2 separate regions of the Homo sapiens genome follow, and region 1 is linked to region 2. Evidence: fine-mapped expression QTL. A gene starts in region 2. The other region holds a variant in brackets. All regions are shown on one strand. Distances are between the middles of the regions. Region 1 overlaps UBR7 (ubiquitin protein ligase E3 component n-recognin 7). Region 2 holds the start of UBR7 (ubiquitin protein ligase E3 component n-recognin 7).

The links.
Region 1: its variant is fine-mapped to the expression of UBR7 in CD8 T cells (CEDAR, PIP 0.95).

What each region holds. Positions count from the first base shown.
Region 1 is chr14:93,225,582-93,233,912 of GRCh38, reverse strand. UBR7 (ubiquitin protein ligase E3 component n-recognin 7) reads right to left here. Exons shown (of 11, transcript NM_175748.4): 11 at 4,698-6,970. The coding sequence ends at 6,878. Among named protein-coding and RNA genes, the nearest start is that of UBR7, 22 kb to the right of the region's middle. The variant T/C (reference allele first, on the strand shown) is at 3,942.
Region 2 is chr14:93,203,326-93,211,655 of GRCh38, reverse strand. It overlaps UBR7 (ubiquitin protein ligase E3 component n-recognin 7), which reads right to left and starts at 4,400. Exons shown (of 11, transcript NM_175748.4): 1 at 4,215-4,400; 2 at 1,699-1,832; 3 at 948-1,008. The coding sequence starts at 4,364. GON7 (GON7 subunit of KEOPS complex) reads left to right here and starts at 4,591. Exons shown (of 2, transcript NM_032490.5): 1 at 4,591-4,826; 2 at 7,874-8,330. The coding sequence starts at 4,619. The coding sequence ends at 7,968. RefSeq lists an enhancer at 4,495-5,354.

The sequences.
Region 1 (8,331 bases), 22 kb before region 2:
CAGCTGGAGAGAGAAGCCAGGTGGGGCAGATGCGAGTCTGAGTGGGAGGTGAGAAGGTGGAGATGATCTGTGTAGACAGCCTTTTTGAGTAGCTTAGTGGTGGAGAGGAGGGAAACTGAAGGCGTTTGAGGAGTGAGGAGACCCGACCGAGCTGTCCCTGGAAGCTGGATGGGGTCATCATTACTGTCATCTTGTGGGCCAGTCATGAGAGACCTTGTCACATACATAGGCTTCCCTCGTCCCCTGGGAAGCTGGTTGACTTATCAACAGGAGAAGGAAGTCGGCTCTGCATCATTTGTTCTTTTTTTTTTTTTTTATACTTTAAGTTCTGGGTTACATGTGCAGAACGTATAGGTTTGTTACATAGGTATACACGTGCCATGGTGGTTTGCTGCACCCATCAACCCGTCACCTACATTAGGTATTTCTCCTAATGCTGTCCTTCCCCTAACCCCCGACCCTCTGACAGGCCCCGGTGTGTGATGTTCCCCTTCCTGTGTCCATGTGTTCTCATTGTTCACCTCCCACTTATAAGTGAGAACATGCGGTGTTTGGTTTTCTGTTCCTGTGTAAGTTTGCTGAGAATGATGGTTTCCAGCTTCATCCATGTCCCTGCAACGAACATGAACTCATCCTTTTTATGGCTGCATAGTATTCCATGGTGTACATGTGCCACATTTTCTCTATCCAGTCTACTGTTGATGGGCATTTGGGTCGCACCATTTGTTCTTAAGGACTCCTCACTTCCTATTTTCAGCTCCTCTCTCCTGGGGTTCAGAAATCATTCCACAGTAGCTGCTAGTTTGTTTTAGAAGCCTCTAGGGGACACCTGTCAGGTCACCAGTCCATAGTTTCCAGAATCTACCATCCCCCACCTAAAAGTACAAAAGCAAATGAATTGAGATATATGGTCGTTTCTGGCGTTGGGGCCCGTGTCTCTCTCTCGGTCGTCGGTCGTCCTGCATAGATTGCCTGCGGTGTGCTGTGAATAGTTTCCAGGCCACGTCCTCAGGGCCTCCCGGCTCCTTCCGCCCGTGCTCGCCTGCTTTTGCTCTGCGTGTTCAAGGCTGTCCTCTCACAGAAAGTGTGGAAGCCAGTCATGTGTTTCCACGCTCCCTGTGGTCAGCTAACTGTCCTTGCTCCACAGCTGGCTTTATACATGGCACTCACGGTCTTGGGGTTTCTCACGGGCGTCACCCCAGTCTGGAGTTTAGCTCCATGGCCCACCCAACAGGTCCATCTGTTCTGTCTCCAAGCCTCTTGGCCATGGACCCTTTTTTATTCTGTCTCTGAAACCCAGAGCTCACCAGTTCCGTACAACCACGTCCATTTCCTCCCAGTGCCAGCCCGGTGCCTTTCCCCCGGCCTGGGACTAAGCTGTGTCCCTCGGAGAGCTCGCCGCTGCTTTGAGCCTCATCTAGCAGAGCCTTGGATTCTGGGCTGTCATGCCTTGTCTCCAAGCTTTGGGGAGTGTTCCTGTGCCCGCTGCTGGCCTGTCGGGGGGTCTTCAGAGAGGGTGAGGAGGCGGAGCCAGGAAAGCCTGCCTGGGAGGAGGGAGGAAGGCACGGACTGGGGGATCCTCGGGGCGCCTGCAGGGCAGGGCCAGGGCAGGGCCAGGGCTGGGCCTGCCTCTGCCACTTCCTGGCTGTGGAAGCTGGGGCAAAGCGCCTAACTGAGTCTCCTCATCCTTAAGCTGGAGATGATGCGAGTGCGCTTCTTGAGCGCTGGTCGCGAAATTTCCATGTCTGACTCGCGATCCTCAAGTCACCGTGTGCAATAGTTCTCATCCTCAGGCTCAGGTGAAGAAACTCCTCCTCAATACCCACCTTGGAGGGCTGCTGCGGGGTCCTGTGGGCACCTGTTGACGCCTGTACTCTCCTGGAATTCCTTACCCTTCATTTAGCTAGCTCCACAAATATCCTCCATCTCTGGAATCTTCTGGTACAGCCGTTGCCAACCCTTTTGGCACCAGGGACCGGTTTCATGAAAGACAATTTTTCCACGGACAGGGGTCGGGGGGGTGGTTTCGGGATGATTCAAGCGCATTACTTTTAGCATTGGATTCTCATAAGGAGCACGCAACCTAGATCCCTCGCATGCGCAGTTCTCAATAGAGTTCTCCTGTGAGAATCTAATTCTGCCGCGGATCTAGCAGGAGGCGGAGCTCAGGCGATAACTCTCGCCGCGCACCTACTGCTGTGTGGCGCCGATCCTAACGGGCCATGGACGGTACCGTGGGCCCCCTGTTCTAGCAGATGCACCATAAATGCCTCCCTGCCCTCTGAGACTGAACTAAAAGCAATTGTTCTTCCCATCTCTCCATGTTCCAACGGAGCCACTGAAATCCCTGGGGAGTCCCTGGGAAGTCCAGCTGTAAGTGATCCCGAGAGAACTCAGTGCCCCCAGCATCCCACCATTCCCGGGGCTGATGGGACTGGGCTCTTTGCAGAGTTGCAGTCAGGTGACCCTGTGCCTGCCAATCCCGCTCTCCCGAGTCATTCGCCAGCCTTCTTCCTACAGAAGTCCCCTGATCGCACCCACGGTTGTTTCTCCAGCCTGCTCAGGGTGTCCTCCCTGCCCCCCAGTGCCAGCGTCCTTGTGCTCCTACCCCTCCCCTCCTGCCTCCTGTCCTGGCTGCCCTCCTAGCTCCTCCTCGCCCACTTAGCCCTCTCCCAGGACGTGGGCTCCTTCTCGCTCTTTCCACGGACTCTGTGTCAGGAAGGGCGGCGGGTGACGTCTCTAACACCCCAGCACCTCTCCAGCCCCCACGGCCCAGTGTCCCGCTCCCACCTTTGCAGCTGCCACCCCCAGTCACTCCTTTCGTATCCTGAAGGCTTTGGCTCCAACCTAACATCCTCTCCCTCCAATCCCTGGTGTCATCCTGGTAGCTGCCTAGACCGTCTCCAGCTACCTGTCCATGGCACAGCTCTCCCCTGTCCCCAGAATATCTCCATCTTTGAAATGCTAACCTCACTGCCCGCTCTCAGGCCGGATCGCCTCCTGTCCAGAGCCTCTCCCTGGTCCTCCTCTGGAACTCTGGCCTCCTTGCTCCCCTGCCAGGATGGCCCAGCTTCCATAGGTGGCAGCCGTCTCACCATGCCCAGCTGCGACCCATCCTCCCCGCCCAACTCAACCCATAAACAGTGTGTCCATCTTCAGCTTTGGGAGACTGAAGACAGCCACGCCCCCGTGGTACCTGTGGTCCCCAGCCTCCCGTGGCTCGGTGTGCCTGAGTCCTGCGGGTCAGCCTTAACGTGTTCTCCTCGGGGCCACTTTCCGCCCCCTCCTCTCACCTGAGCCGCCCTCCAGCGCACTCCTTCCCCCCACCTCCTCTTACCTGAGCCATGCTCCAGCTCACTCCTCCCCTCCCACCTCCCAGGGAAATGGAGGCTGCCTATGGAACTCCCTCGATTTTGAGGCCTCATTCCAACACCCTCACCCGCATCCCCCACCACCAGGTCTGGTGGTCCTTCTGTCCCATCCTATCCCATCTTCTAACAGCTCCAACATCACCTGCGGTCCACTCTCAGCAATGGCTCCACCTTAAGAATGTGCGTTGGCCCAAGTGTCTCTGAACTTCAACAAGCAACTCCCTGGACTGGCCTTCTGCAGCCGCGCCCTCTCCTTGTCCCCTCACAGTAGTGCCAACTGTGGCCTCTTCTTGCAGCCCACACCCTGCCCTCTGCAATCTGGCCTCTGAACTTACCATGGGTGATGACCGTAAGTCCACATCCAAGGTAGCAGGAGTTGTGGGGAGGCCAAAGATGGGCCACTATACTGGCTTTTTGGGTTGCTTTTATATTTACTTAGAAATAATGGCTACTGTGTAGGGTGGACCTCACATTTTCCTCAGGATGTGGGCTCCAGCCCTCTCTCCCTCTGCATGCAGCAGTACCTGAACACTGTGACTGGTCACAGCCCAGCCCATTGCTTTGTTCTGC[T/C]GTTCATCTAGACCCCAATTATTAGACCCCAGGGGGTATGGTGAAGTCGGGGGGATGAAGGAGCTCTGCTCGGGGGACCTGGGATCAGGCTGCATTTTACAGAACAGCAGAATAATGAGCTACCCAATGTCGTGAACCAGTCCCTCTGCTTTGAGGGCAGGACCTCAGGGCAGGAAGAGCTGTTAGAATACACCATTACGTTTCTTTTGAAGGATGAGGTCTCACTCTGTTGCCCAGGCTGGAGTGCAGTGAGTGGCTGGCTATTCACAGGTGCAACCACGGCACTCTATAGCCTCCAACTCCTGGGCTCAAGCAATCCTCCTGCATCAGCCTCCCAAGTAGCTGGGACTACAGGCGTGAACCTCCATGCCCGGCTCTATGCATTTTTTCTTTTTTTTTTTTTTTTGAGACAGTCTCGCTCTGTCGCCCAGGCTGGAGGGCAGTGGCGTGATCTCGGCTCACTGCAAGCTCTGCCTCCCGGGTTCACGCCATTCTCCTGCCTCAGCCTCCCGAGTAGCTGGGACTACAGTCGCCCGCCACCACACCCAGCTAATTCTTTGTATTTTTATTAGAGATGGGGTTTCACCATGTTAGCCAGGATGGTCTCGATCTCCTGACCTCGTGATCTGCCTGCCTCGGCCTCTCAAAGTGCTGGGATTACAGGCGTGAGCCACCGCGCCCTGCCTGCATTTTCTTAAAACCTGCAGAGGGAGGCTGTGTAGACTTAAATATACTAAAAACAATCTGAAAAGCAACTATTTTGTATTGGTTTTATTTAAATTTTACAGAAACCTGATCAGAGTTAAGTATGTAATTATAAGTCCAGTAACAATTTCTACAAAAATGCACATACAATGCCAGAACTCCTTAAAAGCAACTAATATCATATTTGTGTTTTGCATAAAACATGCATTAATATGTTGGCCAAAATCAGTCTCTACAAGAAGAGACAGTCCAATACAGTCAATAAGAAAACTAGTTGTGAACAACAGGTAAAAAAAGAGGTTTCCAGTTAATGTGAAAGAAGGAATAGTACCTTTCATAAAACAAGCCCTTCAGCGCTGAGTTAACTGATCGGTACTATTGTGCTGCACGTAATGTAACACATCACCTCCAAGACTTGGTCCTGATTGGTCATAGGAAGTAAGGGACTTTCTGGTAGTTACATCAGATATTTGAGAAGATTAAAAGTTTTCCGGACATGATGGTATACTAATAGTGCAACCTTGCAAAAAGGGTTCGAAACATTGTCAGACTTGGAAGAGTTCCCCAGCTTGATAAACAACCTCAAAGACACCCCGAGCCTTTGAACGGAGCCCTCTGCACAAGGCCAGCTCAGGGCTCACCAGCATGTCCTGTGGCCACAAGACCTTCCAGCTCCACATACCACCCTTCGTGAGGATCTGCAATTAGGAGCCTGAGTGCCGAAGAACATGGTTGTGCCATTTCTTTGAGGCTTTGACTTTTTATAAGGCCTAGTTCATCTCATCCAGGGATTGGGCACTCGAATGAATACACAGATGCTGGACACATAAGGAGTATTAATATACATGGTGGCCCCACAGCCTGAAATGCTTTTATTAACATACATCAAGGTGTGTCTCCGACTGTCAGGAAAGACCTTGGTCCTCCAGAGGCAGAGAGAAGCTGAGGGTTCTCTATGTATCACAAGGCATTTCCTACATAGACTGAGGGGTGTTAAAGAGATCTCATATCAACTGAAAGGACTTCCCCTCAAATGTGGGGCTCTGTACAACCTTCCATGAGGATCTTCAAAAAAAAGATCTCATAGTCGTTAGGGAAGTGGCGGTGGACATTAACATTATATACACAAAACTCATCATTCGTGCAGCCTCGGGCCTTGTTTGTAATCTCTTCCACAGTCTGTCTCTTCCAAAACAGGGCTCCCTGCCCTGCTTATTTCAAGTAAGCTAAGTCAGGATCTGTTTTCTTTAGCAGATTCAAGGGGGAAAAATAATAATTTATTGGGGTTCTAATAACATTTTCATAACAGAATATCAAAATAGGTCCATTTTTGATATATGCTTATGAATATCCCTGATAATATCAAGAAATCCAGAGGACTTCGTAAACCACCAAGATTTCACAGGGGTGAGACCCGGTCTGTTTTCTAGGCAGCAGAGAAGGGACTAGTATACGGGCAAATGTTCTCCAGGAAGCCCTGTGAGCACTACAGTACTGAAATTCTAATTCTAGTGCCAATAGAATCATGAACGAAAATTTCACTTGAACTGTATTAGTAAAATTCATAACAAAGGCTTGCTTCCTCAACCCTGTCATCTGTTAATCTCTCCGCCTGTGACAGACATCCAGACCAGAAAACCATCAGTCCTGGCTACTCTGGAGGTTGGGCCTAGAGAAAACAAGCCCCAAGATCCTTTCTAAGCTATGACCAAACCTCAGAAAACAGGGACGTGAAAGAAGGAGCAGACCAGGCTTGAGGAAGCTTTGACCCAAGGCACCACGATCATAGGGGCGAGGGGACCTGTAGAGGTTCTAGGTGACGGGAAGAGAGCCTTCCGTGATGCCTGCGGAGGAGGTTCTGGAAGGCAACAGCTCTGTGGCAAAACACACACATCTGGGAGTGAAATAACAGATCATTAAACAAGACACCAATTTGCTTTCTCAAAACAAAATCAAACTTAAAAACTATGCAAATAACCCTGGGTGCACTGGAGTAGGAGTACACTGGAGAAGTCTGTGGAATGAGCTGCATCAGCTGAGTCACAGAGGACGCTGGCTGTGAAGTCAGCATCCACACGGTGGCTACTGCAGCTAAAGAGAATGAAGGGAGCGCGAGGCCTCTCCAAACAGAGGAGGACGGAAAGGGGGCCAAATGTGAACCACACCTCTTTTATTCCAAGAATGGGAAGCGCATTTTCATTGGCTTGAATGAGAAAGCTTCATACTCCACTCTAGCTGCAGTAATACTGCATCCCATCCACTCTTCTTCTCTTTTTTGACTGAAACTCTTCAAAGAACTGCTGAATGTCCTCTCTCTTAACAACCTGTTTTTGAAAAGCAAAGATTATGAAAGAGAACTAAGTAACAGAATCGCAATCCGAGGTCATAGCATTCACAAACAAGTCAAATGATACTGTTAAGAATTATGTTAATGATAACATCTCCATTTTCTATTTTTTTTTTTTTTTTTTTTTGAGATGGAGTGTCGCTCTGTCACCCAGGCTGGAGTGCAGTGGCACGATCTCGGCTCACTGCAAGCTCTGCCTCCCGGGTTAACACCATTCTCCTGCCTCAGCCTCCCGAGTAGCTGGGACTACAGGCGCCCGCCACCAAGCCCGGCTAATTTTTTTTTGTATTTTTAGTAGAGACGGGGTTTCACCGTGTTAGCCAGGATGGTCTCGATCTCCTGACCTCATGATCCGCCTGCCTCGGCCTCCCAAAGTGCTGGGATTACAGGCGTGAGCCACCGTGCCCAGCCTACGCCTGGCTAATTTTTAAATTTTGTGTAGATACGAGGTCTCACTATATTATCCATGCTGGTCTCAAACTTCTGAGCTCAAGTGATCCTCCCGCTTCCTCCCAGAATGCTGGGATTACAGGTGTGAGCCATGACACCCAGCATGTTTATTTTTTACTGAGGTAACACATGCTTATTGTTAAGAAAGAAGGACAGTGAGACAAGGAAAGTGAAGGAAAGAGAAAGAAAAATAGAGCACGTGAATGAATTCGAGCAAAAAGGGAAAGAGATAAAGAGAAAGTAAGAAAGAGGGGTATAAAGTGAAAACTTCCCTCTCATTCCCTAGTAAGTGTGGCTACCATACTCAAAAGAGCAACTTGGAATAATGCTAACTTGGAATAATTTTCTCAGACCAGTAGCTGATACACCAGTTTCATAAGCACCAACAGTAATACTGCTGCTCAACCAGTGAGGAATCCAAACCCCTAACAGATTCAGGATGCAGAGGCTGAACACATCCTGAAATGACTGCAGCTCAAAATTCTAATGTACTTGGCTAAATGGCACGGGAATTTACACTTAACAAAATGCTAATAAATAGGATACTTGCAAGTTGCAAAATGAAGGATCTGTCCCTACCCTGGATTACAAACATTAGCCACAGAAAGCCCGTAAGTAAAAGGAAATATCTCTAGCAAGGATACTGTAGGAGGAGACCTAACAACACACAAATGAGACTGTGCAGCTTTTGGTTTCTGGATATCCTCAAATGGTCACAGCTAACGTGCAGAGTAGAAACGCTAGTGAATAAATACTTGGGTTCAATAACAAATCAGTTTTTTAATTTATTTCAGAAAATGTGTAGTTTCTAAGTTTATTAATTATTATTGCTTTTTAGAGACAGGGTCTCGCTCTGTCACCCAGGCTGGAGTACAGAGGTGTGATGAT
Region 2 (8,330 bases):
GTCTGGGTTCAAGCCATTCTCCCACCTAGGCCTCCCAAAGTGTTGGGATTACAGGTATGAGCCACCACGCCCAGCCTTATTTATTGGTTTTTCTTTTTCTTTTTTTTTTGAGATGGAGTCTCGCTCTGTCGCCCAGGCTGGAGTGCGGTGGCACAATCTCGGGTAACTGCAACCTCCGCCTCCTGGGTTCAAGCGATTCTCCTGCCTCAGCCTCCCAAGTAGCTGGGATTACAGGCACGCACCACCATGCCCAGATAATTTTTTGTATTTTTAGTACGGGGGGGTTTCACCATGATGGCCAAGCTGGTTTTGAACTCCTGACCTCAAGTGATCCACCTGCCTCGGCCTCCCAAAGTGCTAGGATTACAGGTGTGAGCCACCGTGCCCGGCCTATTTATTGTTTTTGTTTGTTTGTTTTGAGATGGAGTCTTGCTCTGTTGCCAGCTGGAGTGCAGTGGCGCAATCTCGGCTCACTGCAACCTCCGCCTCCTGGGTTCAAGCAATTCTCCTGCCTCAGCCTCCCAAGTAGCTGACCGAGTAGATGACTGGGTGCCACCATGCCCAGCTAATTTTTGTATTTTTAGTAGAGACAGGGTTTCACCATGTTGGCCAGGATGGTCTCGATCTCTTGACCCTATTTATTGTTTTTAAGTCATATCCGCTGATTTAAAAGCCTCAGAGAATAAGTACAACCAATATAATTAAACCTGAATTACTTTCAAGTACATCTCTCCCCCAAACCTTTCATATTAATTACCATCTATCTTGTAGGCTCTCAACAGTTTATATAGTTTTTCTAACAAAGTAAAAAATGAAATGGCCATCTGCAAAGAATAAGCATAAGAACTTCTTTTTTTGGAAAATACAGGTATTTGTTTTTTTACCCACTCTGGCAAATATTAACCTCAGCTGCTCTAAATGCATTTATAGTTACAGTGCTTACTTACAGGAAGTAATTTGCATTCCAAATTTTTAAACTTGCTGTTTCCACAATCACAACGAAAATTTCTGAAAAAAGGAGGAAATAACAATTTTATTTTTCTTTTTACAAAATCCAATTTAAAATTTCTTCAAGCATTCAAGCACATAGTAAGACTTCACAATTCGGGAAATTAATATGTACAAAAGCAAATATTTATATCACATACAAACACACAAGTAAAATGATGGCAGGGAAAGATAAATGGTTTGAGTTTGTACCATATTATGTTTTTAAAGGCTCTAGAAACAACTCTCTCCAATTATATAAAATAATTACATTAAATTTCATTAGTGCTGGGCGAGGTGGCTCACGCCTGTAATCCCAGCACTTTGGGAGGCTGAGGCGGGCGGATCACGAGGTCAGGAGATCGAGACCATCCTGGCTAACTCGGTGAAACACCGTCTCTACTAAAAATACAAAAAATTAGCTGGGCGTGGTGGTGGGAGCCTTTAATCCCAGCTATTCGGGAGGCTGAGGCAGGAGAATGGCGTGAACCCGGGAGACGGAGCTTGCAGTGAGCCTAGATCACACCACTGCACTCCAGCCTGGGTGACAGAGCAAGACTCCGTCTCAAAATAAATAAATAAATAAATTAATTAATTAATTTCATTAGTGTTCAACTGCTTTGCATGAAAAAACAAGATTAGGAAAAAGTGTAGATGGGAAAGAATCTATACTTCAAAAGCATTTAGTAACAATCTCTTGACTATGTTTACCTTTTTGTGTATAGCTCAAATAGTTTGTGACTTCCATGACATTCATAACTGCAAGCTAAACAAATTCCTGCTGGTTCTTCTCCCTCTGGGGTGCAGGTACTACAGGCATATAGTGCTTGTCTCTTTACTGAGCCCTGAAAGCCCCCAAAATGGAAAAGAGAATTAATGTAGTAGCATGGTTTACCTAATACCCACACTAGGAACTGAAAAATAATTAAAATCAGATTATCTGTGGTCAAGATCTTTCTGTAAAAACCATTAAGACTAAAAAGTTTACACAACAGAGCATCAACCAAAACACAGTTGCGTTGCAAGTTTCATTTTTATACTAGTGCTTTTTTTCATGCAAGCACTTTTTTCTTTCTTCCTTATTTATTTTTTGCAGAGATAAGGTCTTGCTATGTTGCCCAGGCTGGTCTCAAACTCCTGGGCTCAAGCAATTCTCTGCCTTGGCCTTCCAAAGTGCTGGGATTACAAGCATTAGCCACGACACAAGCCAGCACTTCTTTCTTAAAGTGATAGGAAGTCTGAATTTGTCAATCAGCTGTGAATAAATGGATCTGTTTAATCATTTTAATATGTGAAAACACAGGAGCATATGTACAGGTTTATGTAAGTAACATCACACTTTCATCCTGGAAAATGTTTGTAAATCTACCAAAGAAAGAATCAACACATGCAAAGAATCCCTTTGATTTTTAGGAGATGCCTGCTGAAGTATTTAGAGGTATAGTGTCATCGTGTCTGCAACTTATTTTTAAATAGTTCAAAATTTTAAAACAGCAAATTTTAAGTAGAAAAGGAGATAAAACAAATGTGACAAAATGTTAAAAAGTGAATATGTAGGCTGGGCACGGTGGCTCACGCCTGTAATCCCAGCACTTTGGGAGGCCGAGGTGGGCAGATCACTTGAGGTCAGGAGTTCAAGACCAACCTGGTCAACGTGGTGAAAACCTCATCTCTAGAACACCCCATCCACTAAAAATACAAAAATTAGCTGGACGTGATGGCGGGCGCCTGTTATCCCAGCTACTTGGGAGGCTAAGACAGGAGAATCACTTGAACCCAGGAGGTGGAGGTTGCAGTGAGCAGAGATCATGACATTGCACTCCAGCCTGGGTGGCAAGAGTGAAATTCCATCTCAAAAAGAAAAAAAAAGTGAATATGTATAAGAGGTATAGTTACCTTCCTCTAGGAAGGAGGAAGATAGATAAGGAGGCTTCCGGGATGCCAGTAAGGTTCTATTTCTTTTTCTTTCTTTTTTTTTTAAAGTTCTATTCCAATAAGCCTTTTGCACTCCTAATGTTCTATTTGTTGATCTGGGTTGTGGGAACACGCACACTTTCCTTTCAAGCTGTGTACATGATTTGTGCAAATTTCCGTATTTTTTTTTTTACCACAAAGAAAATATTAAGGAATCCATTTTATAAAGGTAACTACACTTCAAAAATAGTTTACATATAGACATAACTTTTTTCTTTTTTTTTTTTTTAAGTAAAGCAGGGGAAAAATTGTTTTAGTGGTGACCAAAGGTTTTAAAATACCTGGGGCTATGTCTGGATACCAGGTTTATTCAACAATCTAGCACTTTGCAGTGTAAACTAACCTTGGTCAACAACGAGAACTGGTATTATGATCTCAGTTCATACCACATAATGAATACAAGTCTCTCCCCTCATCTCCCCAGTGTTCCAATCCACCCCTCTTCCTAGGTAACCCTTCTTCCTACCAATTCTCATCCTTTGTCAGTCTTCTTCCTACCCATCCTTTTCCATTTTTGTACCTCGAAGTGTAGGGTGAGTCACTAAACACCACATCACACCCCCTCAAACACTTGCTCACTCACAACGTCTTCCAAATGCCAAACAGATCCTTTTCTCCTCTCTCCCCTCCCTTGCCAGAGCCACTTGCTGTTCTGTTTCCGGTCTATTTCCAGGGGAGGGGGGCAGACTGCAGATAGACATGGGTACTTGCTTCATTTTGCCAAAAAAAGAAAGAAAGAAAAAGTACTAGCTAGCACTTGTCCAACTAAATTGCAGAGGAACTAGCTGTCAAGGAGCTCACCGCAAATCCCTATGGATTTGAAAATCTCTTTAACCTGACTCTCCCATTCGGTCCCTAATAAATAAATAAATAAATAATCTTAGGATGGGAAAATCAGGGACAAAGATGTCTGGATCTGAGAGGTCGCGGGGTGGTTTCGTGAAAAGCAGTGGTGCACCAAGAAGAGGCTGGAGAGGACGGACAGAGCAGCTGCTCCAGGGCCCTTCCTGGCGGGCCGGACAGAGTTGGAGACAGGGGAGAGGGGGGCCCCTGCTGGACACAGGCTGAAGGGGGCCCAGGAGGTTGGGGTTAAAAGGGAAGGGTGAGCTTGGGGTGAGGAAGCGGCAGACTAACGGCGGCCCCGGACCACCACTGGGGAGACGACTGCGGCAAGGCGGGAATAGGGACAGCCGGGCCGGGAAGGGGAGGTTCGGCGGGAGCCGGGGGAGAGGAGGCCCGGGCCGCGCGCCCACCTGAGAGTAGGAGCACTTCTCGGAGTCGCTGCCGCCCAGGACAGCGCACGCCTCATTCTCCAGCTCCTCGTCCTCCTCAAGGACGTCGACCAACGATACCACGGGCTCCAGCTCCGACTGCCGCCCAGCGGCGCCCTCGGCTCCGGCCATCCTCAACTGTCAGCCGAACAGCGGCTCGGCCCCGGCGGAGGCGGGAAAAGCGGCCGTGAGGGGCGTAGCCGGAGGAGGTGGGGCCCGAGTGCCAGGAACCAATGACAAGGAAAAAAAGCGAAGGAAGGGGGAGGAGCGACTTCCGACAAACGGATGTCACTCCTCTCCCTTCTCCCGCCTGCGCCGGACGCGGGCTGATTTCCGCCTCCGGGTGGCGCTTCCCGGTGTCGTGTTCTGGAAGCTTAGCGGTCACCATGGAGCTGCTGGGAGAGTACGTCGGGCAGGAAGGGAAGCCGCAGAAGCTGCGGGTGTCCTGTGAGGCGCCGGGTGACGGCGACCCTTTCCAGGGCCTGTTGTCTGGCGTGGCCCAGATGAAGGACATGGTAACGGAATTATTCGACCCTCTGGTACAGGGGGAAGTGCAGCACCGGGTGGCGGCGGCTCCAGACGAGGACTTGGACGGTGAGCTCTGAGACGGTGCTGCAGTGACCGGAGGACGGGGCGGGCGCCCAGGGGAAATTGGCTTGGGGAGCCCGTGTAGAGTGGCAGACTTGGACAAAGTGAGCCTCGAGGAAAGAAGAATTGCATCTAAAAATTTTTGGCGGGCTAGGCGAAGTGGGGCTCACGCCTGTAATCCCAGCACTTTGGGAGGGCGAGGCAGGAGGATCACTTGAGGTCAGGAGTTCCAGAACAGCCAGGGCAACATATCGAGACCCCGTTTCTATTATTATTTTTAAAATAATTTAAAAAATAAAAATTGTTGGCATTTATCACTATATTTATTTGGGCTGCTTCTACTCAAGCGTTTCCACAACTCATCGCTATTTCGTTTATTTCACAAAAAAACGTGTCGAATGCCTACTATTATGTGCCAAACCCTGAGCTGAGCCCTGGAGGAAGAATGAGGTGAATGCGACTCAGTTCCTGCCCTTGTGAAACACAAGGGGACTAGACAGGCAGACACTCTTATTAAAAGTGGAAGTGGTCCGGGCTGGTGGCTCACGCCTGTAATCCCTGCACTTTGGGAGACCGAGGCAGGCAGATCACGAGGTCAGGAGTTCGAGACAAGCCTGGCCAATATGGTGAAACCCTGTCTCTACTAAAAATACAAAAATTAGCTGGGCGTGGTGGCATGCTCCTGTAGTCCCAGCTACTCTACTCGGGAGGCTGAGGCAGAAGAATCGCTTGAACCCTGGAGGCAGAGGGTGCAGTGAGCCGAGATCGCGCCACTGCACTCTATCGTGGGCGACAGAGCGAGACTCCGTCTCAAAAAAAAAGAAAAAAAAAGTGAAAGTGGTTCTGTGGTCCTCTGTAACTGTTGCAAACCCAGACACCCTAGGAAGTCTTCAGAAAGGATAAGACTTTTGAGCTGGGTGTTGAATAAAAAGGAGTTTTATCAGGTGTGAAACTACAGACATACTTGGAAGAGTACAATCTATCGCAGAGTAGGAACAGGTTCCAAAGACTGGGACAGACTTCATTTTATCACGTATTAACTCCCAGAGACTCCCTTGCCTTTCCAGTTTTGTAGGTGCAGTTTGAAAGTAGAAACATGAAGTTTAACTGCATTATTTTTAAAAAATTGCCTCGAATGCAGAAATAGGCAGGTACTTTTTTTTTTTTTTGAGATGGAGTCTAGCTCTGTCACTCAGGCTTGAGTGCAGTGGCACAACCTTGGCTCACTGCAACCTCTCCCTCCCCGGTTCAAGCGATTCTCCTGTCTCAGCCTCCGGAGTAACTGGGATTACAGGCACCCGCCCCCACTCCCAGCTAATTTTGTATTTTTAGTAGAGACAGGGTTTCACTGTGTTGGCCAGGCTGGTCCCGAACTCCTGACCTCGTGATCCACCCGCCTCAGCCTCCCAGAGTGCTGGGATTACAGGCGTGAGCCACCACACCTGGCCAGGCAGGTACATTTTAACCGTCCTGAGCTGAAAAACCCAAGAACTAGATATTAGAGTCAGGATTTACAATTATGTAAGAAGAGCTTAAACTGTACTTTCCTTCCATCTTGGGAAATACATCTTGATAATATGGATGTTGGCTATAATCAAAAAGAACAATAACAAGTGTTGGCTGGAATGTGAAGAAATTGGAGACCTTGTACATTGTTGGTGGAAATGTAAAACAGTGTAACCACTGGGAAAAAGAGTTTGGTAGCTCCTCAAAAAGTTGACATGAAGTTACCATATGACCCAGCAGTTCCACTGGTAGTCCTCCCAAGAAAACTGGAAACGTATGTTCACACAAAAACTTACGCATGAATGTTGATAACAGCAGCATTTATAGTAGCTAAAACGTGGAAACAACAATTGGCTGGGCTTGGTGTTGCGCCTTTAGGAGGTGGGAGGATCATGTGAACCCAAGAGTTTGAAGCTGCAGTGGGCTGATTGCTCCACTGCACTCCAGCCTGGAGGACAGAGTGAGGCCTCATCTCTTCATCTCTAAAAATGATAATTTTAAAAAATAGAAATAATGCAAATATCCATCAACCGATGAGTGCATTAACAAAATGTGGTATATCCATACAATGGACTATTATTAGCAATAAAAAGTAATGAAGTATTAACATGTGCTACAACATGAATGAACCTTGAAAACATTATGCTAAGTGAGAGCCAGACACAAAAGGGTACATGTTGCATGATTTTGTTTATATGAATGTACAGAATAGGCAAATCCATAGAGATAGAGTAGATTAGTGAGCCAGGTGCAGTGGTGGGCACCTGTAGTCCCAGCTACTCTAGAGGCTGAGACAGGAGGATCACTTGAACCTGGGAGTTTGAGTCTAGCTGGGCAACATAGCAAGACCCTATCTCTAATAAGGGGGAAAAAAAGTAGATTAGTGGTTGCCGAAGGCTGAGGGGAATGGAAAGCGACTGCTAATGGGCATATCATTTCTCTTTGGAGTGATGAAAGTGTTCTAGGTGATGGTTGCACAAGCTAGTGAATATACTAAAAACCACTAGGCCGTACACTTTTTAAAAGAGTGGATTTTGGCCAGCCACAATGGTTCATACCTGTAATCCCAGCACTTTGGGAGGCCGAGGCGGGCGGATCACGAGGTCAGGAGAACAAGACCATCTTGGCCAACATGGTGAAACCCCATCTCTACTAAAATGCAAAAAATTAGCCGGGCGTGGTAGCGCGTGCCTGTAATCCCAGCTACTTGGGAGGCTGAGACAGAGGAATCGCTTGAACCCCGGAGGCGGAGGTTGCAGTAAGCTGAGATCGTGCCACTGCACTCCAGCCTGGCGACAGAGCAAGACTATCTCAAAAAAAAAGAAAAAAAGAGTGGATTTTATGGTGAATGAACTAATATTTCCAAAGAGGAAAGTGATAGAAAATAAAGATTTTAAACACTGAAATTCTCAAAATCATTTTAATCTAAAATGTGCAGGTTTTATTAATCCCTAAAGTGAAATGGTCTCATTATCAACCACTTTAGCTATATATATTTCTTTCAGCCATAGAACGTATTGTCATACAACAAATATTTATTTTAAAAGGTGATGATGAAGATGATGCAGAAGATGAAAATAACATTGATAACAGAACTAACTTCGATGGACCATCTGCAAAACGGCCAAAAACACCGTCTTAACAATAGCCTTCATGACATTTAAAAGATGGCTGTTGTATCCTTATTGTCACACTAGGACATTTAAGGAAGACTTATGCTCTAATTTGGAAAAAGCATTTGTGTTGTTCTCCTGGGACAATTTTGTCAAAGAGAAAACTGGTTTTTCTGTTTCTAGCAAAGATAGTAAAGGCTTAGAAATAAAATCTGTTTTCTTGAGAAATAAATTTCAGACCCTGGAAGGAAAATAGAACACTTCATAATGTATAAAATCCTCTAAGTTGGCAACTGAATTTTTATCATTGTTTTCTATTTTTAAAATAATCATTGATTTGTGTGATGTCTACATCTTTTAACTTCTGGTTCTGTTATAAAGAGTACATGTC